Linked DNA regions of Homo sapiens: regions 1, 2, 3, 5, 6 and 7 are each reported to be linked to region 4. The links are microRNA targets in miRTarBase. Many come from high-throughput screens and were not tested one by one. Region 4 holds a microRNA gene; each other region holds the end of a gene's coding sequence.

Region 1 (4,077 bases), not on the chromosome of region 4:
TTTAGTAGAGACAGGGTTTCACCATGTTGGCCAGGCTGGTCTCGAAGTCCTGACCTCAGGTGATCCACCCGCCTTGGCCTTCCAAAGTGTTGGGATTATAGGCGTGAGCCACTGCACCCAGCAAAGGCAGAATTGTAGGTCCCAACAAAACAAGTATGTTGGGGGGAAGGAATAGAACATTAAAAACACTCCATGTGATTCTTAAAATCACTGCATCTGAGAAAAACTCTACATATACTTTCAGCAGAGACAATCTTGTCAACAAATATTTATCTTTATTATTGACTAATAAAGCCTGAATATAGGATCAAACATTTCTTTTCCCTACACATAAAGACAAGGCTGTTGCTATGTATAACAAAAGCAGGAAATACTGTTTTTTGTTTTTTTTTTTTTGAGAAGGAGTCTTGCTCTATAGCCCAGGCTGGAGTGCTGTGGTGCGATCTCGGCTCACTGCAACCTCTGCCTCCTGGGTTCAAGTGATTCTCCTGCCTCAGCCTCCCAAGTAGCTGGGATTACAGGTATGCGCCACCACGCCCGGCTTTTAGTATTTTTAGTAGAGACGGGGTTTCATCATGTTGGCCAGGCTGGTCTTGAACTCCTGACCTCAGGTGATCCACCCGCCTCGGCCTCCCAAAGTGCTGGGATTACAGGCGTGAGCCACAGCGCCCAGCCAATACTTTTTTTTTTTTTTTTTTTTTTTTGAGACGGAGTCTTGCTCTGTCGCCCAGGCTGGAGTGCAGTGGCGCTATCTCGGCTCACTGCAGCCTCCTCCTCCTCCTCCCGGGTTCACGCCATTCTCCTGCCTCAGCCTCCCGAGTAGCTGGGACTACAGGCGCCCGCCACCACGCCCGGCTAATTTTTTTGTATTTTTAATAGAGACGGGGTTTTACCACGTTAGCCAGGATGGTCTCCATCTCCTGACTTCGTGATCCGTCCGCCTTGACCTCCCAAAGTGCTGGGATTACAGGCATGAGCCACCGCACCTGGCCAATACTTTGTTTCTTAGTAAGAGGCCAGCTGCTGCTAAAACAAGGATTTACCCTCCAGTATGAGGAGCCCAGCTTGGTCCCCCTGAGGAATCAGGTGACCTCAGCTGTAGTGGCCTTAGGCACATCCAACTAGTGTAAGCCAGGTGTGATTAGGATCGTGGCATCTCCTATTTTGGCACAAGGATGATTCCGCTTTAGGATCCCAGAGATAATTCTATTTTTTAATGTAGTTTCTCAGCAAAGACAGTTCTTGAAATTGCCTTTCCAGTTTTCCATAGGTTGACAGTGATTTCCCATTTTTGTCAACTCTTTGAGTTTGCGATTCCACATTTTTTTCAGAAGTAATCTTCCAATTCCATAAATAAATGAAAACCAAACCACACAGCTGGAAATCAAGTTTTGTTTTTATATGAACAGAAGTAGACCATCTAGAAATATTTCAGTTTATTTAAATTGTTAAGTAGAATATGAAACCGAATTTGTAGCTAGTACCAGAGAATGGACTTAACTGTTTGGTGTTTAATGAGAACAGCTTCTACACAGGATCCCAAGAGACTTACAGAAAAGGGGCAAAGCCCTAATATTAAGCAAATAAAACTCATGTTTCAAACAGATTATACAAAAATTGATTTATACTTCATTTCCCTTTTTTGATATTTAGAAAGTGCAGATTTAACAAAAGGTAGCCATATCCTTTCTATGTACAATGCCGATTATAATTATGCAAAACTGTCAGTCTGTTATCCAAAAATCCCAGTGTTTAGCTCTCCAACCTTAAGTCATGGAATTGAATAAGAATTAAAGAGGGTTAAAATAAAAAAGCTAATGCCACATTCCAGATAAAGGGAAGCAACAAATACATTAATCTAACAACAGTAGGTTTAACCTAAACTTTTCAAAAAGCTTAACATCATTTCATTATATTTTTAGTGGAAAATTAGGGATTATTTGGCAATGCTGCTTTTTACTAGTAGTAAACAATGATAAAGTCAAGTGTGGGAATAACCTAAGAATAACAACCAGTGAGGCATATAAAATTGTTTTTAGGGCACTATCTGAAAAATTTGTGGATTTTCATAGCAGATACGTCCCTATGTTGTTTGCTTATGTGAGCCAAGAGGTCATTAAAATGCTATTCACGACACAGAAAGACTTCTCAATGGAAGCTGCTGTCCTAAACTCAGCCTCTGCTAGAAATGAATCATGCTATTCACAATTCTTTCAACAAAGGTATCATCTTAGGATGCTAGCAGCATAGCAAACTTCACTTACCCTATCCTAATGATAAGCAATGAAGCAAAACTAGAAAAAATGCAGTGAAAAAAGGACAGGGTTAGAGATAGCTAAAGATCTTATCTTTACATGAAAAGCCTTTCGTTGTCCTTTTTCCAAACCCATGGTAATACAAGTTTTCCAAAAGGATGTAAAGACAGGACTTAAAATTAATAATATTCTAAAGTATTTCTGAATCTTAAGGTAAAGAAACTTAACACTGAAAAAGTGTTCTTCAGAGGCCAAATCTCAATACATTTGGCAAACATGTTAATAAAATTCACTCCTCCTTCCTGCTTTTCCTTTTTTAAAAAAACAACCTGTACTAGGCTACCAAGCTGCTAGAGGAGTTGCCAAAATGCAGACTACTCAAATTTAGGTTAAGAGATTTATTCTAGGAAAGTGAATAGGCTATACACCTAATTAGAAAGACAAACCACAACACCCTCCAAACACTAGTGCATGCAGTTAACTCTTCCATTTCATAAACTCAATGGATAGACAGGAAGGGAACAAAGAGAGGAGGAAAAGCAGAACATAGAAGTAAAACAGCAAATGAAGGCATCTGGGACACATTTTAGGGAAGAGAGCAAATGAGGGGGGAAGACACCAATTAACTGACATTGGATAGTAGGCAGTTAGAACTTATCTTTCCGTTTACCTAGCAAGTTACATCAGTGCTTTATATTAAACTTGACAAACCTACTAGTTTGTCCCTTTCACTCTTAAATATACCATGAGGTGGTTGGGGAGGGAGAAGCAAATAAAGCAGCATGCAGGGAGACGCAAGGAAGAAGTGGCCAAGGAGAAGAAATGGTGGCAGGAATAGTTTTAAATATCAAGGCCACTTAAAACAAGACTCAGCAAACCAAAGCTATCACTTCTGCATTACCCTTTGTCCTCAATTAACTACTTTGAAAATTACAGCCAAGCAAACCACAAACATTTTAATGGTTTATGTTTGGATGATATGTCTCCTGCACATGCTTCCACCAGAACAAAAAAGGAAAACCAAAGAAGTTCCTTTCCACATAAGGCACAGGACAAAATTAATCCCATTTACATATTCAAGGCGAAAATGAGTGTTTTCCTGGCTTTTGTTTGTTTCTTTTGCTATCACATGTCTATAGATTATAGGGACTCAAGCACATTATCCATGACAGAAAATTCCACTGTTGTACAAAATAAAATTGTTAATTCTAACTTTATTCTTATACAATTTGCAGAATAGATTTGAAATGATTGCTATAGGTTTTAATGTTGATAAGAACTGGACTATAATACAACTGAAATGCAGTTGAGCTGAGCAAGTACATTTAAAAATGAACTCACAGACATGATTTTTCTATACATTTTTTTGTTTGAAGAAAATTATGATAAAGTCAGCAAGCAGTCACAGATGAAAGAACAAATAAAATAGGTGGCTTGGATAGTTAAGATGAGAAACAAAAATATCTGTTTAGAGTTAAAAATGGACAGAGTGGTTTATTTTGCAGCAAGAAGAGAAAACGGGGTAGTGGATGGCAACTGATGGAACAGGAGAATGCTCAGCAGCATTTGCTCTTCCAGCCTGTCACGCCTCCTCCACTGCTGATATCTACATTTTCACTGTTGGGCTCTTTTACAGGGGTCTGCAACAAACACACAAGGAAAATAACTCATGAAAAAACACTGCCATGGATAAAATCACGATTCAACAGGAATATTCTTATGTCAATTTATACAACAAAATACAACTACAATCACAGGAGATAGGTTTCCCCTCCGTGCAAAGTAAAGATTTGGAAGCTTTGTTTTGATTTTCTTTTTGCCT
Region 2 (4,069 bases), not on the chromosome of region 4:
ATGCAAAATTTATTACAAAGCTAAAGTAATCAAAATAGTGTAGTACTGGCATAAGGACAAACATATAGACCAATGGAATACAACATCCAGAAATAAACCCTCACATATGATTTAGAACAAGAGCACCAAGATCATTCAGTGGAGAAAAGGCTAAGAAAACTGGATATCCAAATACAAATGAACAAAGCTGGACACTGACCTTTCACCATATACAAAACTCACAATGGATCAAAGACTAAGAGCTAAAACTATAAAACTCTTAAAAGAGGAAAATCTTCATGACATTGGGTTTGGCAATCTTCTTGAATATGACACCAATAGCATAGCCAAAAGAAAAAAGACAGATACACTAGACTTCACCAAAATAAAAAAAATTCTGTACATCAAAGGACACTATCAAGGGAATCAAAAGAAAACCCAAAGAATGGGAGAAAATATTTGCAAATCATGTATCTGATAATGGATTACTAACTAGAATAAAGAATGCCCACAACTCAACAATAACAGAACCCAGTCAAAAATGGGTGAAGGACTTGAATACACATACACATTTCTCCACAGAAAATACACAAATGGCCAGCAAGTACAGAAAAAGATGCTCAGCATCACAAGCTGTTAGGGAAATGCAAATTAAAACCACAATGAAAGGAGACATCCAGTAAGACAGCTATCATAAGGATACCCATTAATATAGTTATTTTAAAAAGAAGAAAAGAAAATAACAAGTGTTACAGAGGATACGGAAAAGCCAGAACGCTTGTTCATTGGTGGCAGGAATGTAAAATAATGAAGCTGCTATGGAAAACAGTTTGGAGTCCCTCAAAAAATTAAACATAGAATTATCATATGATGCAGTAATTCTATTCCTTCATATATACCCAAAATAACAGAAGGCAGAACTCAATTATATACTTCTATAATAATGTTCACTGCAGTATTATTCACAATACCAAAAGTCTCCATCAACAGATGAATGGATAAACAAAATGTGGCACATACATACAATATTATTCAGCCATAAATAGGAATGAAATTCTGATATATGCTATCACATGAACCTTGAAAATAATGTGTGATTCCACAGGTGCCATGAGGCACCTAAAATAGACAAATTCAAAAAGAGAAAGTAGAATAGAGGTTGCTAGGGGTTAAGAAGAAGAGAAATGCATTACTTTAATTGCACACAGAGTTTCTGTTTGGGGTGATGAAAAAGTTTTACAAGTAGACAGCGGTGATCATTACACAACATTGTGAATGTACCTAACCCCACTGAATTACATGCCTTAAAATGGTTAAAACTGTAAATGTGGCTATGTATATGTTACCATAAAAAAATTTAGAACTAAGTACCCAAAGCCTTCACACCACTTGTGGTGAGCCTTTTCTTCCTCAGTTGAGATAGTGATAAAAGAAATTACTTAGGTAATACTTTTTGAAACCCTGGTTGGTAGTGATGGCCAATAGCATCGCCTCTCCCCGTACCCCAAAACACACATCCACACACACACAAAATACACTCAATACCCTATCAAATACCTAGAATTATATTTCACAAAGGATTACACAACCAATAATTTCACTAATGATGCAGTTTATATCCTCCCATACTGACAGATAAAAACACATACATTCTCTAAGCACAAAGCTTATAGTCACAAATAACTCTCTGCTTAAAGACAAAATTTCAATTAATCACAATGGGAATTTAGTTATTTAATGCAACTACTAATCTAATGTCATCAACAAAATCTAAGCAGTTTTATCACAAAACCAGGGTTATATTCAGTGGGCATGCATTAATAATCTATACAACTTTAACATTACACCAGAAAAGGAATTGAATATATAAAAGTTCCCTTGATTTTTGGTGGTTTTCAAATTTCATGGCACAGATTACAAAAAAAAAAAAAAAAAAAAAACCCTGTAAAAACAGATTTTAAATATTTTCCATAAAATGGTAAAAAATTGAATATATACCTTTAAGTTTTCATACCGGGCTGAAGATTTAAAACATCAAGCTGGCCCCAATCTGTCAAAACTGACAGATAAATATTTACAATGACTAGACAGACTTTAGTTACAAAGGTACTGGAGGTCTACACCCTATTGAAAACCCTTTAGGGTTAATTTCTCAATGCAAACATGTCTTTTTAAATACTGTGATATATAAAGTTGGAAATATACCTAGAGTCTGGAGAGAGATGAAATATAACACCCAAGTCAATCTTATTTCTGATCTGTCAACAAAGCTTTCTGGCTCCCAAACACCCAATATTGTTCCTCAATATAAAAATTAAGAACAGTAGAATGACTTTACCCTACTGGCTGACGTTTTTCTACAGAATTATCTTTCACTACATATTAAAGCAGGGCTCAAGCTCTATTAACCTTCTACAGAGTGTAATTAAAAGAGCGCCAAATTTATAAACTGATGTGGCAACCCAAAATGATATAATTTTCCAATGGAAACAAACTTTTTTCCATTGTTCTGTGTGCCATGTTATTCTTGAAACTTATGTGGCTACAAATAAGAAAAAAATTAGGGAAGCTTTGAACATATCTTGTACTTTTCATCAAGGCTAAAGTGCAAAATATCTCCATTATCTCTGGTATTTTAATGGGGAAAAACATCACATATAATACAGGAAATGAAGTGACAGCAGAACTAATACAAAAAAAAGCACTCTCAAACGTATACTTGAAGACTATATTTTACTACCAATTTAATTTTTCTTTCTTCAGCAGAATATGTCAATGAACCAAGTTCTCATAGAACTTAAGATTTTGTTTGATTCTTCCCAGGACCAGAAATTCCAAAATTACAGGGAAAAAGAATGGAAAAAAAAAAACATTGCATGACAATGGACACTAAGTTCATAAAGAACTTCTTTTTAAAATGAGATATTATGGAAGAAAATACCATGAAAAGAATAATCCTATGAGAATTGTTTTTAAGGACAGTAAATTTGAGCCTTGGGTCTTCATGAAGATACTACAGTTTATATAGAAAACTATAAATATACAAGACTCCGGGGGAAAAAAAAAGTCAGAATACATAATATTTAACATTCTGTATGACTAAAAATCTTTTGAGGGGAGCAGGAAAAGGACAGCCAACTGAATCTTATAAGAATACAGAAACTATGAAAAATTCCTGGGTCAAAATGGTGCTCCAAGTGGAAACACACTTTGTGGGGAAAAAAAAAAACACAAGAAACTTCAGATATATTTTTTTAAAGGAAAGAAAAAAATACTGAATAATTGCAGTCCCTTCCAAAAAGGAAATCTTAAATAAAGGGGAAAAGATTTGAATAGCGTAAACTAGTCTGGCTCAGAAAGAAAATTGAACAACATATCCAAGATCTGTCCATAAAAGTAATGCCAGTACATCTTTAATATTAAAGAAATAGGCTATAAAAAAGTTCAGTCTCAGAATTGGTTTTTAAAGGCTCATTTGTGCTCCTTTGTAGGTGCGTAATAAAGTTCCATGGGTTTGTTCACTTTCCAGTATTTCTCACTGACCAATTCCAAAGAAAAAGAGCCATTTAATACCTAAAACAAAAAAGAAAGAAAAAATTATGAAAACTGCACAAACCACAATAATAATGAAATGAAACTAAAATGGAAGTCCACAGAATCTTTTTTTTTCAAATCTTAGGAATAACTACTTGTCACTTAACACTGTTACGGTTTTTTACATTATTTATTAGATTCTACCCCACCACTTGCCACTCAGTTAGTTGGTCAGTGTGCTCCCAGTTTCAACAGTCTATTATTTTAAATACTCACAGTGAACTGGCCACTGGCTGTTGCTATATAAATGGTATACTGCTTCTCACTGGCTGTATCAAGGTTCATCTGGTTTGATTCACCTTTGCTTCGAAGTTCTTCTAAAGCTAACCTCACAGCCAGATACTTGGATAAGTGATCAACAGTGGCGTTACCAGAAGTCTTTATGTATCTAGAAGAATAAATCATTAAAAATTTCATTTCTAGAATATGCCAATGAGAAAAATGTACTTAAATTATGGAACTAATACATTTCTTAAAAACTAAGTAAAATGGCAAT
Region 3 (4,000 bases), not on the chromosome of region 4:
CCCGGCCTGGTGTACTTATTTATTTTTTTGAGACGGAGTCTTGCTTTGTCACCCGGTTGGAGTGCAGTGGCGTGATCTCGGCTCACTGCAACCTCCGCCTCTTGGGTTCAAGTGATTCTCCTGCCTCAGCCTGCCGAGTAGCTGGGACTACAGGTGCGCCCCACCACGCCCAGCTAATTTTTGTATTTTTAGTAGAGATGGAGTTTCACCATGTGGGCCAGGATGGTCTCGATCTCTTGACCTCGTGATCTGCCTGCCTCAGCCTTCCAAAGTGTTGGGATTACAGGCATGAGCCACCACGCCTGGCCTTGGTGTACTTACTTTTAATGCTTAGAGTACTCATCACACCTGCAAGACATTCAATAAATGTTTGCTGAATGAAAGGGACAGATGAAGCTGTACTATCCCTGTGATCACACAGGGAGATAAGGCAGTGCTAGCCTCATTCCAATGCTTGTTCCAAGCTCTCTTGTCTCATCACAGGGCTGTTACAGGCTCAGATGAGAGGACTGTATACATCTCTTAATGCCTTGGTGATACAAAATCCCATGAATTTCTTCTGATAGTTTGTTGGGGGACACTATAAGTTTAAAATTAAAGGGGGAGAAGGCCGGGCACAGTGGTTCACGCTTGTAATCCCAGCACTTTGGGAGGCCAAGACGGGCAGATCACCTGAGGTCAGGAGTTTGAGACCAGCCTGGCCAACATGGCAAAACCCCAACTCTACTAAAAAATACAAAAAAATTAGCAGGGCGTGGTGTTGCATGCCTGTAATCCCAGCTACTTGGGAGACTGAGGCAGGAGAATCACTTGAACCTGGGAGGCAGAGGTCGCAGTGAGCCGTTATCACACCACTGCACTCCAGCCTGGGCAACAGAGTGAGACTCTGTCTCAAAAATAAAATAAAATAAAATAAAATAAAATAAAATAAAATAAAATAAAATAAAATAAAATAAAATAAAATAAAATAAAATAAATAAAATAAAATAAAATAAAATAATAAAAGGGGAGAAACTCAGCAAAAATCACTTTTGGGCTGGGCATGGTGGCTCACACCTATAATTCCAGCACTTTGGGAGCCCAAGACAGCAGGATTGCTTGAAGCCAGGAGTTTGAGACCAACCTGGGCAACATAGCAAGACCCATCTCTACAAAAAAATGACAGAATTAGCCAGGTGTGGTGGTACATGTCTGTACTCCCAGCTACTTGGAAGGCTGAGGTGGATCACTTGAGCTCAGGAATTCAATGCTGCAGTGAGCTATGATAGTGCCACAGCACTCTAGCCTAGGCAAGAATAAGACCTCACCTCTAAAATAAATTTTAAAAAATCACTTGCGATTTTCTGCACTGCAGCCTAATAGAGCTTTAATAACTGGGAAGTGACCTCATCACATCTCCTAAATGTGACAGGAACTAGGAACACATCTGACCTTATGCACTTTAATACTACCTTTTTTCAGCATTTTTTTCAACATTTCTATGCTGGGACTAAAAAAATCAAGATGTGCTCCTCCACTAAAACCTCCACTGTCCAATTGGAATTGCAGTCTAGACAATTCTAAGGAAAAGTGATGGCCATATTCTGAAGAACATAAGTAGGTCTCAGTAGTTATAAACTCTTTTCACCAAAATGCTGTTTGATCCTCATCCTGAGAGCATTATTTAAAAAAATCTCCAAAGCTCACCACTCATTAATAACCTAACAGTTTTTCAAGACTGTGGGATATAGCAAAGATGCCTCTGCTGTGTCCTTGTTCTCTCTGCAAGCTTTTTACCAGGTGCTGGACTGGAGACTTGCTGAGTGCTAGACCACAGTGATTTGGTCATAGCTGGATGTGAAGATGGCTGGCTGTTCTTTCAGAAGGGACCTGGCTGGAGTTCTTATTGCTCAAAGCTCCAGCTTGCAGCACTGGGCTAGAGCTGATGGAAGGAGAGCTGTTACTATTCTGTTCTACGTGAATGCTACACTGTGAAAGAACAGCATCATCCGACTTGGGCAACAAGATAGTATTCAAGATGTCTTAGAAGGCCTAATCAGAACTTACCAGCTGTAGCATAGCACTCCCTCAAGTGCAGATGCTGGACCTCTGCAGCAGAAATTACTCAAGCTGTTCAGTATAATAGAAATGAAAATTCCCCATCCCATCCTTAACCTATTATCATCAGATACCTTAGGGCAGGGGAGGGGAGTAGACAAAAACCTGATTTTATTTTTATTTATTATTTTTTGAGGCAGAGTCTCGCTCTGTCGCCCAGGCTGGAGTGCAGTGGTGCGACCTCGGCTCACTGCAAGCTCCACCTCCTGGGTTCATGCCATTCTCCTGCCTCAGCCTCCCCAGTAGCTGGGACTACAGGCGCGCGACACCACGCCCGGTTAATTTTTTGTATTTTTTAGTAGAGATGGAGTTTCACCGTGTTAGCCAGGATGGTCTCAATCTCCTGACCTCGTGATCCACCTGCCTCGGCCTCCCAAAGTGCTGGGATTACAGGCGTGAGCCACCGTGCCCGGCCAAAACCGTGTTTTAAAACAAACTCTAGAATAACTGATGTCTGTAAGTTGGAGAACTGATGTGCAGGACATGATCCACATGCCTCTAATAAAACACCTGGAGAGGCAGCTATTGTGGATCGAGACTCCTGTCCTTAGTCTTCACCAAGCAGCACAGGCTGTGGAACCGAAGCTTCAGGTTTGCCTTCACTGGCTGAACTATGGTACCCAGAGGGCAGGAATCATGTCTGCTCTTCACTGATGCTCCTCATTCCCAGGAACACACAACACATAGTGTCACGCTGTAAGCAGAGCCAGGCTAGTAGTAGCCAGGAATAGGTCAGCTACCGAGGTGAGCGGTACCTAGTTGGTCTTCTTGGATCTCAGCCATCCTCATAACCTTTCAAAAACTCATTCATAGGAAAAACTTCAAAATGTCCTGCTTACCTGCAGTTACTAAATCCAGTGAGGTAAAGATGCTCCCAGTCTAGAATTGTACTCTAGCCCCTAAATCTTGCTGGGAGTCTCAGGAGAGGGTGTGATATACCTAAGGTTACTCCCTGTGATGTTCTGAATGGTGAGCACTTGTTTCTGCTGACTGTGGTCGCCAGGGATCGTTACCCACTTGACACGACAGGAGAAAACAGGTCACAGATTAACTGGCAGCCACACAGTGCATATGTATGGTAATATGGGGGGAAGGGTAGCACACAGACAAATCATCTGCCCAAGTGCATGCTGAGTGGATACAGATCACAGGCTGAGCACCTGGGGGCAGGGCTTTAAATCTTGGACTAAATTCACTCATGAGCCCTCCAGGATATCTGCTGGCAGGTGCACTGAGGATGTACATAGCACATGTGTTTGATAATGCAGTCCAATTGGGGAGTGGATAAAGTGCATTTATTTTCTTCTATGTTTGTTTTTGTAAAAAGGAGAAAGGAAGCAAAAGACTCCTTCCTTTCAGACCCAGTGTCCACTGAGCTTGGAGGGGGTGGAGCCGGGACCAGCCCCCTAGGAAAAGGTGTAGGAATAGAAGGCAATGGCATTGGCGCTATAGTCCATGGGGAGGAGGTGCCCGATGTGCCTGGCCCCTAGGCTGGCCCCACCCAGAGCGGAGGAGTGCCTCAGCTTCATCAGGGTGAAGCTGGAGAAGAAGTTCTGAGCCTGGATCTCTCTGCCCTGGGTCAGCGCCAGAAGAAAACCTGGAGGGAAGAACACAAGGACAGAGATAAGAGGAGAACAGCAACCTGTACTGGGGCCAGGAAGGAAGACAGACAAGGACGCCCAGACCCTGAGGTACTCCTGTAGAGATGCTGGAGGGGCCTACATGCCAAGTGCCCAGCACACAGGGTGCACTGGGTACTCGAGTATTGGAGCCAGCAACATAGGGGGCCTGCTCTCCTCTCAGCTCCAAAGGACCCAATGCCAGGAATTCCATGGTAGCAATGGGAGTCCTTGAGCTACTTCAGAATGTCCGGTAGAAACCATCCAACTGCCTGGCATAAGGC
Region 4 (4,063 bases):
ATCCTTCCAGACCCAGATGGGGAGGAGTGTGATCCCAGATTTAGCTCCGCTCTGAGCTTCCATCTATTCACCCTCAAAACGGTTCATTCGTTGGCACCCCGGAGCTGCTGAGCCAGGTGCAGGTGTGAAAGAGCACTGAACCTGGCTCAGAGGCGAGAGTGGCCCCCCAAGTTCTGCCAGTGTGCGGGAAGGGTGGGGTGTGCTGGCTCCCACCTGCTCAAAGAACTCATCCATGAAGCGGTCTCGGTCCACGGTGACAGCGACATCATCATCATCATCGCTGTCCTTGGCCTGTGCGGGGTTGTGCACACATAAGTGGACGTATGTACAGGACCCACCTGTACACACGCAGGTGCCCAGGGTACAGCGCCAGGGCCCTGCCCCTCCCCCTCTCCCTGGGGGCCTCTGGGCAGGGACAAGAACAGGCCTGGCTGTTCCGCTCCCAGCCACAGTAAGATCTGGAGGACCACTGGGGGCCCGGCACAGAGAGAGGAACCTTGCCTGATACACTGGTGTCAAGGCCAAGTCTCAGCCTCTGGGCCAGGGACTTCCTCCCTCACCTATCTGCCTGCCCCCTCCCTGTGGCTGGGGAGGCAAGCGAGCCTGGGGCCGGCCGCTCTGTCTGGGCCCTCTGGGTCCCCTAGGCCCCTAGGACAGCTGCCTGGAAAGTGCATTCTCTACTCTCCTGGCCCTGTGGTTTACACACACACACACAAACACATACACACATCTGTAGAGTTGAGGTCTTGCTGTGTCACCCAGGCTGGAGTGCAGGGGTGCAATCACAGCTCACTGCAGCCTTAAACACCTGGGCTCAAGCGATCCTCCCAACTCAGCATCCCGAGTAGCTGGAATTATAGGTTTCCACAACCATGCCTGGCTCCAGTGGTTTTAATTCAGGTGGAGCCCAGAGGTCCCAAGCTCCCTTTCCAGAGTGGGCCCTATAAGGGGAGACCTGCCTACTGTGTCCCAGCCCTGGGCACCACTAAACCCCAGTCCCGAGGTGGCACGGATCAGATCTCTTAGGAATCTCCTGTGAGTCTTTTTTTAAAACAGTTTTTAAATTTAATTTTTATTTTTGTAGAGACGGGGGTCTCACTGTGTTACCCAGGCTGGTCTTGAACTCCTGGCCTCAAGCGATCCTCCTGCCTCAGCCTTCCAAAGCACTGGGATTGTAGGTGTGAGCCACTGCACTTGGCCTCCCTGTCGGTCTTGCCATTGGACCTCGGTCTGCCTCCTTCCAGTCCCCAGACCTGGGCCCAGCAGGCACAAGGGGACAGTCATGTTGCCACTTGGCTTGGGTCCTGCCTTAGGCCTCAGCCACAGTTACAAGCCCCACTCCACTGTCCCAGGACCAGCTGTACAAAAGCCACCCCCATCGTGGGGCAGGGGTAATCATACTTCTGACTTCCCAGCATGCTGCGCACAATTATTACTGTCTGCCTCATACCGCCAGTTGGCCAGGGTCAGCCCACGCTGCTGGCAAGGCCAGGTCTCTCTCTGCAGCCAAGGCAAGGATATCCGGGGTGGCCACCCTGGGGCAGGGACTGAGGTCTCTCAGCCTGGGGCTCAGGGCTTGTTCCCACCTCTTTTATTTTTATTTTTTTATTTTTTGAGAGAGTCTCGCACTGTCACCTAGGCTGGAGTGCAGTGGTGTGATCTTGGCTCACTGCAACCTCCACCTCCTGGGTTCAAGCAATTCTCCTGCCTCAGCCTCCCGAGTAGCTGGGATTACAGGTGCATGCCACCATGCCCAGCTAATTTTTGTATTTTTAGTAGAGACAGGTTTCACTATGTTGGCCAGGCCGGTCTCGAACTCCTGACCTCAGGTGATCCACCCGCCTCGGCCTCCCAAAGTACTGGGATTACAGGCGTGAACCACCACATCTGATCTTGTTCCCACCTCATTTCTGAGTGCCTCACGGGAGTGGCCACTGACTAGCTCAGCACTGACCCCACCTCGGTGCTCTCGCGTCAGGACGGAGGCAGGTGGAGGTTGAGGGGCTGAGAGAACTGATGGGACTCATCAGGCTGGGCCTTAACCCCTCTGGCTCTATTTACTCTTCTGTGAAATGGGGACAGTGACACCTGGCTGCATGGAGGGAGGGCTGAGAAAAAGTGGGGAAGCAGGGCAGGTATGTTTGTTTGATTGATGGATGGACTGATTGATTGATTGAGACAGGGTCTCGCTCTGTCACCCAGGCTGGAGTGCAGTGGCACAATCATAACTCCCTGTAGCCTCAACCTCCCGGGCTCAAGCCATCCTTTCACTTCAGCCTCCCAAGCAGCTGGGACTACAGATGCATCAGATGCATGCCACCACACCCAGCTACTTTTTGATTTTTTTTTTTTTTTTGTAGCGACAGGGTCAAACTATGTTGCCCAGTCTGGTCTCAAACTCTTGGGCTCAAGTGATCTTCCCACCTTGGCTTCCCAAAGTGCTGGGAGTATAGGTGTGAGCCGCCACCATGCCCGGCCTGAGCATGTTCTGTGAGGGGCTCACATCACCCCATCAAAGTGGGGACTCATGGGGAGAGGGGGTAGTTAGGAGCTTTGATAGAGGCGGCTCAGAGGGGCCTCCTCTCTTTAAGATATCGTACCACCTCCCCAGCAGCTAAAATAAATCCTCGTTCCCACTCCCCACCGAGTGCCTGGGGCTGTCACCAGGTGGTACCCCCTCCCCCACCAAGCTCCCTACAGACACAGAAAATCCAGGAGCCGTTTTCACGCTTTTAGACCGTGACAGGCCTAGGAGTTGAGTCAGAGGAGCCCTCCCTAGGGAAACTGAGGCAGAGCACTGCCAGGAGGAGCCCAGTTCCTCCTCCTGGGCAGGCTGCCAGGTTGGGAAGTGGCCCCAGGAGCTCCTGCCATTCAGTGTCCTGCCCTCTCTGCCCTGGTGCTCAGAGGATCAGGGTAGATGACAAAGGGTGGATGGAGAATTATCCAGCTCCTTTTCCGTGGCCAGAGACGAGCGTCACTGCCAGCCCCACCGAACCCCTGTCCTGCCCTCAGAGACCCCTGGCACCTGTCTGGTGCCTCTCTTGACCTCAGCTTGCCCATCTGTGTAATGAGGGCAGATCTTCTCCAGGCATCCGGCCAGCTCTGACCTGCTACCTTCCCAGAAGGCTGAAGGCTGGACCAGGAAGCTTCTCTAACAGAAGGGCTGGGAGGAGAGATGCCCGCATCCTCCTCTGGACCCTCCGTCTATGAGGGTAGGGCTGGGGAAAGGGAGATCAGGGCCAGGGTAGATGGGGGCACGCAGGTCAAGTCTACCCTGGAGGTGGCATTGAGATTGGCCCCAAAGCCAGTCGGGGGGCTGAGGGCCTGACCTCTGAGGCATGGTCAAACCAGCCACAGCTCCAAGCAAAACCTAGAGGGGATGGGCGAAGTGGGCCTTTCCTCCCCACGTCCTTCTACTTCTTCGTTCTTGGGAATTTTCACCCCCAGCTCTGCTCTTTATCCTGCTGCCCTCCCCTGGGATCAGACCCCACTCCCCCACACCTACAACTGGTTCCTGGCCCTACAATCCACCCTCTGCCCCCAACTTCCCCCAGGCACATCCCTTTGCCCGGGATGCTGATTCCATGAAGGTGACATTCCCTTCTTCCTCGATGCCACCTCCTTCCAGAAGCCTCCCTGCCCCCCCAAATCAGTATCTCGCACCTTGTTCTTCCACACGCCATTCACATTCCTATTGGAGCCATGGCTGAAAACTCTCAGGCCCTAAGGGACCTGAAAAGTCCCCCTGGCTTCAGCTGCCAGCCTCAGCTTGCAAACCTCCTGTGACAGTGAGCTCACTAGCTTCCCCAGACAGCTCTGCCCATCTCGGGCAGCCCCAACTGTTAGAGTCCTTCTCTTCCCTGTGGTTTGGTTCCAGGCCATAAAGAACCTGTGGGTGCCCTCTCCCTGGGGTACCCCTGCTATAGATTTGAAGGCGGCATCCACATCCTCCCTAGATTTTTCTTTTTAAGTATTCCTTCCCTTTCAGATCCTTCCCAGGGACCCCAAATTACAGCCCCTGCCCAAGAGTTGTTCCACTGTGCCTCTGTCTCCTGTCATACAG
Region 5 (4,066 bases), not on the chromosome of region 4:
CAAGAATGCACTGTTGAGGGACCCTTATGCGCTGCGGTCAGTGCGGCACCTCATCGACAACTGTGCCTTCCGGCTCTACGGGCACTGGGTAAAGAAAGGGGAGCAGCAGAACCGGGCGGCTCTCTTTCAGCACCGGCCCCCTGGGCCTTTTCCCATCATGGGCCCTGAAGAGGAGGGAGACTCTGCTGCTATAACTGAGGATGAGGCCGTGCTTGTGCTGGGCTAGGACCTCAACCCCAGGGATTCCCAGGAAGCAGAACTCTCCAGAAGAAGGGTTTTGATCATTCCAGCTCCTCTGGGCTCTGGCCTCTGGCCTCAGGCCCACTAATGATCCTGCTACCCTCTTGAAGACCAGCCCGGTACCTCTCTCCCCACTGGCCAGGACTCTGAGATCAGAGCTGGGGTGGAAGGGAGCCATTCTGAACGCCACGCCTGGCCCGGTCAGTGCTGCATGCACTGCATATGAAATAAAATCTGCTACACGCCAGGGAGAACAGGTGTCCTGTGTCTGTCTGGCTTGGGCAGGAAAGCCCAGAAGGTGCTCAGCAGGGTGCAGGGATGGTGCCATTCTGGCCCAGACCTTTATTGGGGAAAATGTTGGGGGTCACTTGGTCTTGCTCTTGCCTTTACCCGGAGGTAGCTGGAAGGGCCGCTCTAGTGCAGTCAACTTGCTGCTGAGCCTTTCCTCGCTGGCCTTGAGCCGCTCCTCCACCAGCCCCTGGAGCTGCTCCAGCTCTTTGTTCACTTGGGTCTTGATGTAGGCTCGGAGGACGTGGATGTGGCCTGCAGGGGCAGGGAAGAAGGGGCAGGGTGAGGAGAGATGCTGTCTGGCAATGGGGGGATGGTCCCTAGTTGGGCAAACAGTCCCCAAATTTCCCCTGGTGGGGATATAGAGGTAGCAATGTTGTTTCCCTTTAGGAAATGTTAGCAAGCCCTTGTGTGAGAGGTAGTTGGGTAGGGTGGCTATGCTGGACTTTGCAGCTTCAAATTCTGATCCCTACTCAGTAGCTGTGTGACCTTAGGCAGGTTATTTAACCTATCTGTGCCTCAGTTTCCTTGTATGAAATGTGGATAGTGATACCTAGCACATAGGATTGAGGGAGGATTAAATGAGTTAATTTATGTAAAATGCTTAGAGCAGGGCATGCACTGCACACCTATTGCCAAGTATGTGCTGGCTGTTATTGTCATTGGCTTTCTCTTTTTTTTTTTTTTTTTGAGATGGAGTCTTGCTTTATCCCCCAGGCTGGAGTGCAGTGGCAGCGATCTCAGCTCACTGCAAGCTCTGCCTCCCAGGTTCATGCCATTCTCCTGCCTCAGCCTCCCAGTAGCTGGGACTACAGGCACCCGCCACCACGCCCGGCTAACTTTTTGTATTTTTAGTAGAGACGGGGTTTCACAGTGTTAGCCAGGATGGACTCGATCTCCTGACCTCGTGATCCGCCTGCCTCAGCCTCCCAAAGTGCTGGGATTACAGTTGTGAGCCACTGCACCTGGCCTGTTCTTTGTTTTTTTTTAACTCTTAAGTTCTGGGATACGAGCAGAACATGCAGGTTTGCTACGTAGGTATACATGGGCCATGGTGGTTTGCTTTACCCATCAACCCATCATATAGGTTTTAAGCCACCGTCATTGGCTTTCTAATGATCATTTCTCTGGAGCCACTTCAGCTGTGCTTTTTGTTTGTTTGTTTGTTTGTTTTGAGACAGAGTCTTGCTCTGTTGCCCAGGCTGGAGTGCAGTGGCCAGATCTTGGCTCACTGCAGTCTCCACCTCCTGGGTTCATGCAGTTCTCCTGCCTCAGCCTCCTGAGTAGCTGGGACTACAAGCGCGCACCACCATGCCTGGCTATTTTTTGTATTTTAGTAGATAGGGGGTTTCACGGTGTTGCCCAGGCTGGTCGCGAACTCCTGAGCTCAGGCAATCCGCCTGCCTCAGATTGTGCTGGGATTACAGGTGTGAGCCACCACGCCTGGCCTGCAGCTGTGCTTTTATCTGTCATCTTGGACTTCTGCATAAGGGATCATTTAGAGAAAGGACTCTGACTAAAAACAAAAAGTCTGAAGTCCTGATGTCATCCAAACCCTTCATTCTACACCTGCTCAGAGGGACAGGGCAGCCTGCCCTCTCCAGATCCTCACTTGGCTCTGGCTCTGGTGGGGCCACTGTCTCTAGTTCCTCTTTCTGCGGGGTAACTGCCTGCTCCTCCATCTCCTTGCTTTCTTCTTTCTCTGCAAACCAGAAGCAGGAAGAGACTGTGGCCCCAGGCCTGGCCCAGCCCAGCCCTGCCCTGGCACTCTCCCTTACCCGTCTCACTCTCTGGCCACAGTTTGGGTGGCTGTAGCCCCATGTAAGTCAAAGACAGATCCAGCCGCACCTGGGAAGCAAGGCAGAGGGAGGCTGAAAGGAGTGCACCTGTGCTGAGGGGAGGGGCGGTTGAGGGTGGCTCCTCATGGTCCACCACCCCCTACCTGGGGTGTGAAGACGTATTTATAGAGCTTGAAGTGGCGGAAGTAAGTGTTGACCACGTAGTCTTCCAAGGCCAGCAGCTGTTCCTCTTTGAAGAGGTCGATGCTGAAAGGAGGCCGCTGTGGTGGTGACTCGGAATTAGAACCCTGACTACCTTCCGGAGCCCTGGCTTTGCCTCCAAAAGCCCAGCAACAGGAGCAAGGAGAGCCCACTGGGGTCTTCACAAGAAGATAAGGGTGATGAATGTGAGAGAGACTGGGTGAGACCTTGTCTGGGGATGGGTAAAGTTTCCAGAATGTTCCAGGGGAACTGACCCTGACTCCATGGCAAAAAAGGACACTGGTGAAGTAGCGGTAGCACTCCTCCACGTTGCCCAAGGGGGTTGCTGGTAGGGAAAGCAAGATGCAGCAGTGAGGCCCTCTCTGGTATCCATTCATTCACTTCACTCAACAGCTGTTTATGACCATGAGCTTCAGAAGCAGACAGATCTGGGTTTCAGCACTGGCTTGTTTCCTTAACTCATGTAACAAATACTGAATACCCACTATATGCCCACTGTATGGTTTTCGGCACTGAACAAGACAGACAAGGTCCTGCCCTTACGAAGCTTATATTCTAGGGGAATAAACCAAGAAATAGATCATTTCAGCTATTAAACATTCTGAAGCAAGAGCTATTAAACATTCTAAAGCAGGTGTTATTGTGCACTATGCATATATTTGCATATATTATTTCTCAGAACAGTCCTGTAAAATGTGTGCTGTATCCTTAATTTCTAGATAAGGAAGCAGTGGATTGGAAAGCTGATGGCTTGTGTATGATGATGCTACTAATAATGACATATTCCAGGCAGAAATCCCCTGCTTCTGCTTCCCATGGTCACTTGTGCCAGGCCCGGTTCCTCTTCTCCCTGGGGCTCAAACCTGGTAGCTGCCCCCTCTCACCAATACAAGCCTTGTGAAGATCCTGGAGCAGGGCACAAGCCGCTGACGTCTGCTCCAGTGAGAAGCCCTGCTGGCGGCAGAAAATGAGCGCGTGGCAGAAGAGGTCCAGGGTGATGGCGTCCCTCAGGCTCTGCTCAGGACACCCTAGCTCCAGCAGCTCAGCCAGCACCCTTGGGAGGGAGAGAGGAGTGAGTGACAACTGGGCCTCCTTTCATCACCCTACACCCACCACATGCTTTGGAGTCAGCCATTCCTCATGTTTTCCCAACCTGACCCCTCAGCCTTTGCCAAGAGCTCTTCCCACGCCCCCCTCAGTCCCTACTCCCTCATCTCAGCATTGGTGGTCTTCTCCAGCTGGTGCATGGAATGGACGTCCAGGTACTTCCTGTTATAGTAAAAGAAAAAGAGTATTGGTGGCCGTTACCTATCATGACAAGGCTGTGACAGCTAGTGCGTGAGACTGGGAGTTGGCCACCGGCGTGAAGCTGGGCTCTTTTGCCAGCTTGCTGTGTGACTATGCAAATCGTTAACTCTCTGGGCCTAAATGAACTCTTATGAGCCTCTCCATTTCTAAAGCCTAGGGTTAGGAATCTTGAATTCTTTTTTCTGCTCTGCCACTACCTTGTATGACCTTGGTCAAGTACTCCCTGTGGC
Region 6 (4,063 bases), not on the chromosome of region 4:
GCACTACACAGGAGGGATTCTCCCCCAAACCTTAATCTATAGGACTCAGTGAGCGAGTCTTTGCCCTTCCCCCTCCCTCAAGACTGACACTCCTCCTCCTCCTCCTCCCCTGCCACCTTCTCTGGCCTCTCCAAGACAGGATCTAGGGCTGTGGCCAACAGACCTGCAATTAGGAGGGCCTGCTCTCATCTCCACAGTCCCGCACACACCCACTATTGCATGCCAGGCAGGTAACACTATTGAGAACAGCCGGCCCTGCCAAACAAGCCAGAGGGAATTTCAGAGAGAAGAATTTGGTCGCTGGAAAGCTCTAGCCCATAAAAACTCTCCTGCTGAAAGAGAGTATGGGAGCAGGGAGAGAAGTTACCACCTGATTCTCAGGGAGCAACAGCTTGGGGTCCTGGTGCCCTCCCTCCATGCATGGGGTGGTGGAGGCACAGGGGTCTTCCCGTCTAGCTCATGCTCCTGTACACTCTTGTCCAGTGCCACTGCTCAGTGAGGAATCCACCAAAGCTACAAGCAGCAGCTTCCCCTTGCTGAGGAGACCGGGGGTCTCCCCTTGGTGATATGAGGGGGGCTAGTTCTCCCGCTAACCTCTGGCATCCAATCCTACCTCCCTGATCTGAATCTCTTCCCTCTTTGCAGTGCCAACCCCCATCACCCTCATTTTCTCTCACCCGGATCACTTCTGCAGCTTCCTGGCTGAGCTTCCTGCCTCCAAGTAGCCCTCCAATCCCTTCTATACTCTTCTGCCTGAGGGACTGCTCCAGAACAGGGTGGGTAAAATAAAGTCCCTGGTCAAATCTAGCCTGCTGCCTGTTTTTGCACAACTCATGAGCTAAGAATGGTTTTTATGTTTATAAATCGTTGGGGAAAAAAGTCAAAAGAATATTTTGTGACATAAAAATCATATGAAATTATTTCGGTGTGCACAAATAAAGCATTAGAACAGAGCCTTACTCTTTTCATTTGCATATTGTCTACGGCTGCTTTCACACTACGATGGCAGAGTTGGATAGCTGCAACAGAAACTATAAGTCTCACAGTCTACAATATTTACTATCTGATCTTTTTTCACAAAACATTTGCTGAATCCTGGTCTAGATCCTAAATCTGGCCATGCCACTCTGCTTAGAATTCTTGTCACTCCCTGTGGCTCTCCACGAGCTGACCCCTGTCCACCTGTCCAGCCTCATCACCTGTGCCCCTAGTTGTCTGCCTGCTCTGGACAACCCTTACTCAACCATTCCCCCAGCCCTGTCTCCTGCTGTTTACCTTCTCTCAGCATGGGCCTCTTTCCTCCTCCAAATGGCAGCCTACCATCTCAAGCCTCAGCTCAAATGCTTCCTCCCATTTCACTTTCCCACACGTGTCCTGCTCTGACCCCCAGAGCTAACCCATTTCTACCGCAACTTCACAAAATATTCCTCTTAGGACTCTTCAGCTTTTAATAACCGATTAACAACCTGTTGGTGGCAGACTAGCCAATTCCACTGAGAACATCTGTTCACGTGTGTCCTCCCTGGATTACTAAATGTACGAAACCAGGCTGCTTCCCACAGCCCTGGCACAAGGCTGGCACAGGGTAGGCATGCAAATATTCACCAGAAGAGGCCTGGTTAGCATTCCACACCTTCTACTTGGCTAGTATTATGGAGGAAGATGTGTACATATTTTCTAGATACTAAGTATCATTTTTATGAACTTTGAGGATCAGGTACCTCCACGTGTATTACTCCTTTAATCTTCATAACCCTAATGAGGTCAGTGAAACTTTCATCGCATCAAGCGGCAAATTATGTGGCACAGCTAGAATCTGAAGTCAGGTCTCCTGCCTTTTGCTGATTCTGAGATACTCTCACACGTACTATTCACCCACTGAACCCACTGCTTGAAAGAGGTAACAGATGCTCATGGGCTTCCTGTTGTGTGTGGGGCCACTGACCTGCACTACATGGGTCCAGAGAGAGGTGGTTTTGTTTTGTGTCACTTCCCTCCAGTCACCTGTTCCTGCTGCTGTACCTGATCCCTTTTGAAGCAGACTGGGTAAGGACCAAAGGACAGCCCTGCTACAGGAGGAGGAGGATTGAGGAAAAAAAATGAAAAGAAATAAAAAAATGAAAACACCAAAAGGCAGCCCTATAAAGTTAAATTTTATAATTTAATTAAGTGCTTGTTTTTGTCACTCTACTTCTCAAGTCTCCTGCTACTGCTCTGGGGCTCATGGCTTGCTCTAGGGCAGAAGGAAGTTGCTGGAAGCCTGGCCTCCAGGCTGGAGGGGTGCCAATGCAAGGGTCACACTAATGGAACTATCAATGCACCTGCCTTAAAGGAGCCTGAAGAATGCCTCCAGTGGGCTGCTGGGCATAAGCCCTGGACTGTCCATATACTACTTGGAATATTCAAACAGAGTCCAGAGCTCAGAGGCAGGGAGAGCCAATAGGCTGCTGAAGGCCTAGGGAAAGCAACACAGGACAGTTGTCCATTTGAGACTCTTTCTCTATCAAAGAGGAGTTAGGGATATACTGGTCAGTTCAGAGACCACAGTGTGACCCTGGCAGAAGAACTTGCTCTCTATATTTCCTACCATCATGGGGGACGGCCAAACTGATTGTTACTGAACAGGTTCAGTGATGTGGTATGAGAAGTGCCAGGGACTTAAGGAAATAGAATTCTGTAAAGCAGCCTGACCCCCTTCTAGGTCTAGAACTGATCACATTGAAAATGCCAAAATAAGTTCAGCTAGATATACCTATGAGAGGTTTTGGCAAAAGACTTAGGTATGATGGCTGGGTTTAAGATAACATGTGTGATTCCGGATATGGTATACCAATTCATTATTTGGTATTTCAGACTAAAAAATTCATTTGTGCTCCTAAAGATTTTGATCAGTTTGGGTAAAGCAAGCAATGTCTGTCTGATGTTTCAGGCATTTTCAGGAGGACAAATAACTGGGACAACTGAGGCTATGACTTAGTGGCATAAAGTTGGTTTCAGGCTAAAAGTTTGGTTTGTCCAAATAAAGCCCAATAGTCCCTCAACTCTCAGAGCAATCACAGTGATGGTGTAAAGAGCCTCTTTGAATGCGTGATTGCATACCTAGTGACCATACAATCAGAGATCTGGTCATAATGAAACACTTTATACAGACAGGAATAGACAAGGGATTTCTGACACACTCATGCTTTGGATGTGTCAGTACAAGACAGTATGTGAGACTGTGATTCTGCCAGGCAGAGGGGAACGGGCATGATTTATCTGCTGGCAAATAAGTCTCCACTATACCTAATCATTCTTTTATCTAAGTGCATCATGATCTTCTTAGTCCTGGACGTCAAAATAGTCAATTATTGGCTCCTTGGTTATTTTCTGTAAATTACTGCTCCCAGGATTCCTGAAAAACAAACAAAGAATGATCAGTCTTTTCTTCTTTGGGGGAAACAGATACAGGACTTCAGAAAGTTAAGGATCAGCTGATTTACCATTTGTGAATCTTAAACATTTATTTTATTTTTATTTTAGTCTTACTTTTTTTCCTTCTGCCCTTTGTGAGCAATTTTTTTAACTTTTGTGTTTCCTTCTAGATTTACATATTACATGGGGAATTTTATTCTGTGAGATAACAAATTCTCTATTTACACTTTACAGTTTAGAGGTAACCTTTCACAATCTATTTACAGGATTTCATATATGATGATGATTTTACTCTGCCTTCACAGTTCAATGAATGCTCAGTTAACAGCTTAAGCCAAGCGAGCATCTCACTTGTGAAGTTTTGATAGTGGGACAAACATGAGCTGGTGATTTTGAAATTTGGTAATGGGCACATGGGCATTTATGATAGTAATACTATTCTCTCTACTCTAAAACATTTCCATAATAGAGTTTTATACAAAAATAAAGCAAGCCAAGGGTTTTTAAAAAGATAGCATGGGATGGCCAGGTGTGGTGGCTCACGCCTGTAATCTCAGCACTTTGGGAGGCCAAGGCGGACGGATCACGAGGTCAGGAGATTGAGACCATCCTAACACATGGTGAAACCCCGTTTCTACTAAAAATACAA
Region 7 (4,077 bases), not on the chromosome of region 4:
TTGTAATGTTACTATTTTGTAATTATGTTTACAGTTCTATGGAGATGAGTGAATAAACATATGAGCACTGAACAAACATATACAACCCATGTACTTCTGAGAAGATTAAGGGATTTTAAAATTACTTATCTAGCTTTGGGAGGCCAAGGCGGGCGGATCACGAGGTCAGGAGATCAAGACCATCCTGGCTAACACGGTGAAACTCCAACTCTACTAAAAATACAAAAAATTAGCTGGGTGTGCTGACGGGCACCTGTAGTTCCAGCTACTCGGGAGGCTGAGGCAGGAGAATCGCTTGAACCCGGGAGGTGGAGGTTGCAGTAAGCTGAGATTGCGCCACTGCACTCCAGCCTGGGCAACAGAGTGAGACTCCATCTCAAAAAAAAAAAAAAGGTCAAATAAAATCCAATACTCTGCACTGACCATTAGTTTCACCCTTAGAAATGTTACTTGATTTTTTTCAATTATTAAAAGGTTTCCAACATGTAAATGTACACCAGTTAAAGTGTCCCTGCAATGTATTCATCACTGTTGTGATGAGCAGCCATGTAGTAACTTTCTATTCTTCACAAATCTGTGAGGTAGGTGCTGCCATTATCAGGATGAGAACTTAAACATCGAGAGGGTAAGTCATTTGTCTAAATTCAGACACTGGACAGGAGTAGAGTGGGGACTTGATCCTGTCTGGACTGAAGTCACGGAGTGCCTTTAACTGACATGCTCTATTATGATTGGTGAGTCATCTGCTATTAGATTTCTGGATGTGAGCACATCACATAACTAGTCTTTTCCTTTCTTGCTGTAACAATTGCCTTATAACATTTCGGATTTCTACTCATGTAAAGTTACAGGTTTCAGGTACTATCTCTACCTGGAAACAGACAGTGTAGACCATCTGTGTGATTAAGGGAAAGAGTTCAGAACCCCAGCAACCCACAGTGGAGAAAACCACCTAAGCCTCCAGTGAGGGCTACTAAATCTTGCTGAAGTTAGCGTCCATAAGAAGGTCATTTTGTCTAAGTTCATCAAGTCTTGTGGTCACAGGATTATATCTTTAGAATGCTGGTGAGCAGCCATGCTAACGAAAGCCCCCTTTGGCTAGGAGTTTAGTACTGGGAGGGGTACTGGGAGAGGATAATATAAAGTGATTATTTCCCTTGTCTTTGCTCATCTGCACCTAAATCATGAGGATCTATGGATATGCACCTCATCAGAAGAGTGCACATAACAGCAGCAAGAGAAAAAGCAGCACAGAAAACACAAGGTCACTATGCTTTCCTACACAACAATCACTTGTCAGGCAACTGTCTGAGATACCTAATTCTCCCCAGAGTGGATGTCTCCTTGTACACGCATATGTGTGACACACACACACACACAGATATAAGTTGGCTCCGTGTCCCCACCCAAATCTCACCTTGACTTGTAATAATTCCCACGTGTCAAGGGCAAGACCAGGTGGAGGTAACTGAATCATGGGGACGGTTTCCCCCGTGCTGTTCTCATGATAATGAGTGAGTCTCATGAGATCTGATGGTTTTATAAGAATCTGGCATTTTCCCTGCTTGTACTTCTCCTTCCTGCCACCTTGTGAATTTGTGAAGATGCCTTGCTTCCCCTTCACCTTCTGCCAGGACTGTAAGTTTCCTGAGGCCTCCCTACCATGCTGAACTGGGAGTCAATTAAATCTCTTTCCTTTGTAAATTGCCCAGTCTCAGGAATTTCTTCATAGCAGTTCAAGAATGAACTAATAAACTACATATATATGAAATAACACTATATAGTATATAGCACTATAAACTATGCTAGGGTACTCAAATTTCTTTCAATATAGATGCAAAATGTCTCAAAAGATGCTACAAAACTGAATTTACCAATATATAAGAAGACTTACACTTCATTACCAAGAGAGATTTAACCCCCCAAAAAAGCAATGTTGTTTTTGCATCTAAAAGTCAATTTGGCTGGGCACAGTGGCTCACATCTGTAATCCCAACACTTTGAGAGGGCAAGGCAGGAGAATCACTTGAGCCCAGGAGTTTGAGACCAGCCTGGGTGACAAAGTTAGACCCAATTTCTTATTTTAGAAAGTCAATTAATGTGATATACCATGTTAACAGAATAAATTTGAAAAACCACAAGATCATTCCAATAGATGCACAAAAACCATGAGAAAAACTTCAACAACACTTGACAATGAAATATTCAATAATAATGAACAGCAGGAAACTTTCTCAACCTGCTTTAAGGAATTTATTTTAAAAACCCTCAGCTAACATCATACATGATGATAAGACTGGATGCTTTCTTTCTCAGATTAGACACAAGACACTGTTCGATCACAGGTCTCTCTCCTTAAACCAATGTTACCTATGCAAATAGCCAAAAATAATGACAATGTAAAGAACAACAGATGAAAATAATAATTCACGTGAGAATATACTCTATAATAAACTTTACATACTTACAAATTGACAGCAACTCTATTAGCAAAGAAAATAGACTCATTTATCAATGGCCAATTAATAACAAAATAATTAAACTACACAGAAGTTAAACCTACAAATACATTTCACACATCTACTGTGTAACCCACAAAATTTTTAAAAAATTTTAAAAATATTTTATACTTTAAATATTTAAAAAATATTTTTTAAAATGGCTATGCAAGAAAAAAGGAAAAGAAATACATTTCAATTTACCCATATAACCAACACACTTTAAAATGGGTAGAAAAAGGAAATTTATTTACCAGCTTAAAAAAGAAGAATACATATTTAACTCTTGTACTACTGCTTGAAGAATACTTACAGAAGTCTTGCCTCAGCTGGGCGTGGTGGCTCACGCCTGTAATCCCAGCACTTTGGGAGGCTGAAGCGGGCGGATCACGAGGTCAGGAGATTGAGACCATCCTGGCTAACACGGTGAAACCCCATCTCTACTAAAAATACAAAAAATTAGCTGGGCATGGTGGCAGGCACCTGTAGTCCCAGCTACTCAGGAGGCTGAGGCAGGAGAATGGCGTGAACCTGGGAGGCAGAGCTTACAGTGAACTGAGATTGTGCCACTGCACACCAGCCTGGGCGACAAAGTGAGACTCCATCTCAAAAAAAAAAAAAAAAGTCTCACCTCAATTTTTTTTTTTTCAAAAGAAGTGAAAATCTATATTCTAGAGACTCTCTTCAAAAATGAGCAACCAATATATTCAATTTATTTATAGCTCCTAAAACATCTCATTCACATAGTGAATTTTCTTGAGAATTGTACTATAATTATTTTCCATAAGGTTTTCCATAATATTTACATTTACAGGATTTATTTCCAGTGGGAGTTTTCACATGACCTTTAAAGTAATTGTTAAAATTCAGAATTTTCTGTATTTCTAGGATTTCAATCTGGTGGGCATTCTTTTATTTATAAGGTCAATCTGGAGTATGTGTTACCATGTGTCTCTGAGTGAGTTATAGGATAAATGAAGGCATTCTCACATTCGATACCTTCATAAAGTTTTTCTCTAGAATGAGTTATGTTATACCATCAAATACCACTGGAACAACTGCAGGCCTTACCACATTTTAAACATTCATATGGATTTTCTTCAGTGAGTCCTTTCAAGTTTTCAAAAAGAAATGGAAAAATTGAATGCTTTACCTTATTGCTTATAGTCATAGGGTTTATCTCCAGTTTGATTCGTTTCATGTATTTGAGGAAATCTGGGAAAATTAAGTACTTTCCTACACCTTACATTCACAGTTTCTCTCAAGTATGTGACTGTTCATGTTTTTGACAAAAACTGTAGTGATTAAAGCCTTTACATTTTTTTACATTTATAGGGCTTTTCTCCAGTATGAGTTTTTTTATGCTTCCAAAGGGTACTAGCACGACTAAAGGCTTTGCCACATTTCTGACATTCATAGGGTTTCTCTCCAGTATGAGTCCTTTCATGGTCACGAAGGGAACTGGAACATCTGAAGCCTTTACCACAATTGTTACATACATAGGGTTTCTGTGCAATATGAGTTTTCTCGTGTTTCTGAAGGGAACTGGCGTATCTGAAGGCTTTCCCACATTGCTTAC

The links. The annotated mature microRNA hsa-miR-4284 reads GGGCUCACAUCACCCCAU and lies in region 4 at 2,496-2,513, shown strand. An mRNA with a match to its seed (bases 2 to 7 or 8) in the 3' UTR can be bound and repressed. Matches are read on the target gene's strand: a 7mer-m8 pairs with bases 2 to 8, a 7mer-A1 pairs with bases 2 to 7 and ends in A, and an 8mer does both.
Region 1: miRTarBase lists RAB10 as a target of hsa-miR-4284. The part of its 3' UTR that is shown has no 7-base or 8-base seed match.
Region 2: the mRNA of RNF2 is a reported target of hsa-miR-4284. Seed matches in the 3' UTR shown: 7mer-A1 at 3,328-3,334.
Region 3: the mRNA of NAGK is a reported target of hsa-miR-4284. Seed matches in the 3' UTR shown: 7mer-m8 at 2,282-2,288.
Region 5: the mRNA of PHKG2 is a reported target of hsa-miR-4284. Seed matches in the 3' UTR shown: 8mer at 1,480-1,487 and 8mer at 1,958-1,965.
Region 6: miRTarBase lists NFX1 as a target of hsa-miR-4284. The part of its 3' UTR that is shown has no 7-base or 8-base seed match.
Region 7: miRTarBase lists ZNF124 as a target of hsa-miR-4284. Seed matches in the 3' UTR shown: 8mer at 2,838-2,845.

The regions. Positions count from the first base shown.
Region 1 is chr2:26,134,756-26,138,832 of GRCh38, reverse strand. RAB10 (RAB10, member RAS oncogene family) reads right to left here. Exons shown (of 6, transcript NM_016131.5): 6 at 1,379-3,895. The coding sequence ends at 3,812. Among named protein-coding and RNA genes, the nearest start is that of GAREM2, 36 kb to the left of the region's middle.
Region 2 is chr1:185,099,683-185,103,751 of GRCh38, reverse strand. It overlaps RNF2 (ring finger protein 2), which reads right to left. Exons shown (of 7, transcript NM_007212.4): 6 at 3,790-3,961; 7 at 1,149-3,552. The coding sequence ends at 3,451. Among named protein-coding and RNA genes, the nearest start is that of TRMT1L, 55 kb to the left of the region's middle.
Region 3 is chr2:71,078,012-71,082,011 of GRCh38, reverse strand. NAGK (N-acetylglucosamine kinase) reads right to left here. Exons shown (of 10, transcript NM_017567.6): 10 at 2,204-3,694. The coding sequence ends at 3,504. Among named protein-coding and RNA genes, the nearest start is that of NAGK, 11 kb to the right of the region's middle.
Region 4 is chr7:73,708,832-73,712,894 of GRCh38, forward strand. It overlaps MIR4284 (microRNA 4284), which reads left to right and starts at 2,486; the gene lies at 2,486-2,566. It overlaps STX1A (syntaxin 1A), which reads right to left. Exons shown (of 10, transcript NM_004603.4): 2 at 214-291.
Region 5 is chr16:30,756,872-30,760,937 of GRCh38, forward strand. PHKG2 (phosphorylase kinase catalytic subunit gamma 2) reads left to right here. Exons shown (of 10, transcript NM_000294.3): 10 at 1-4,066. The coding sequence ends at 226. It overlaps CFAP119 (cilia and flagella associated protein 119), which reads right to left. Exons shown (of 9, transcript NM_001014979.3): 3 at 3,735-3,797; 4 at 3,413-3,582; 5 at 2,783-2,853; 6 at 2,471-2,587; 7 at 2,307-2,376; 8 at 2,141-2,230; 9 at 552-783. The coding sequence ends at 605. Among named protein-coding and RNA genes, the nearest start is that of CFAP119, 3.2 kb to the right of the region's middle. RefSeq lists enhancers at 2,052-2,151, 3,116-4,066.
Region 6 is chr9:33,369,237-33,373,299 of GRCh38, reverse strand. NFX1 (nuclear transcription factor, X-box binding 1) reads right to left here. Exons shown (of 24, transcript NM_002504.6): 24 at 2,143-3,394. The coding sequence ends at 3,322. Among named protein-coding and RNA genes, the nearest start is that of AQP7, 31 kb to the left of the region's middle. RefSeq lists an enhancer at 180-680.
Region 7 is chr1:247,152,755-247,156,831 of GRCh38, forward strand. ZNF124 (zinc finger protein 124) reads right to left here. Exons shown (of 4, transcript NM_001297568.2): 4 at 2,235-4,077. The coding sequence ends at 3,812. Among named protein-coding and RNA genes, the nearest start is that of ZNF124, 17 kb to the right of the region's middle.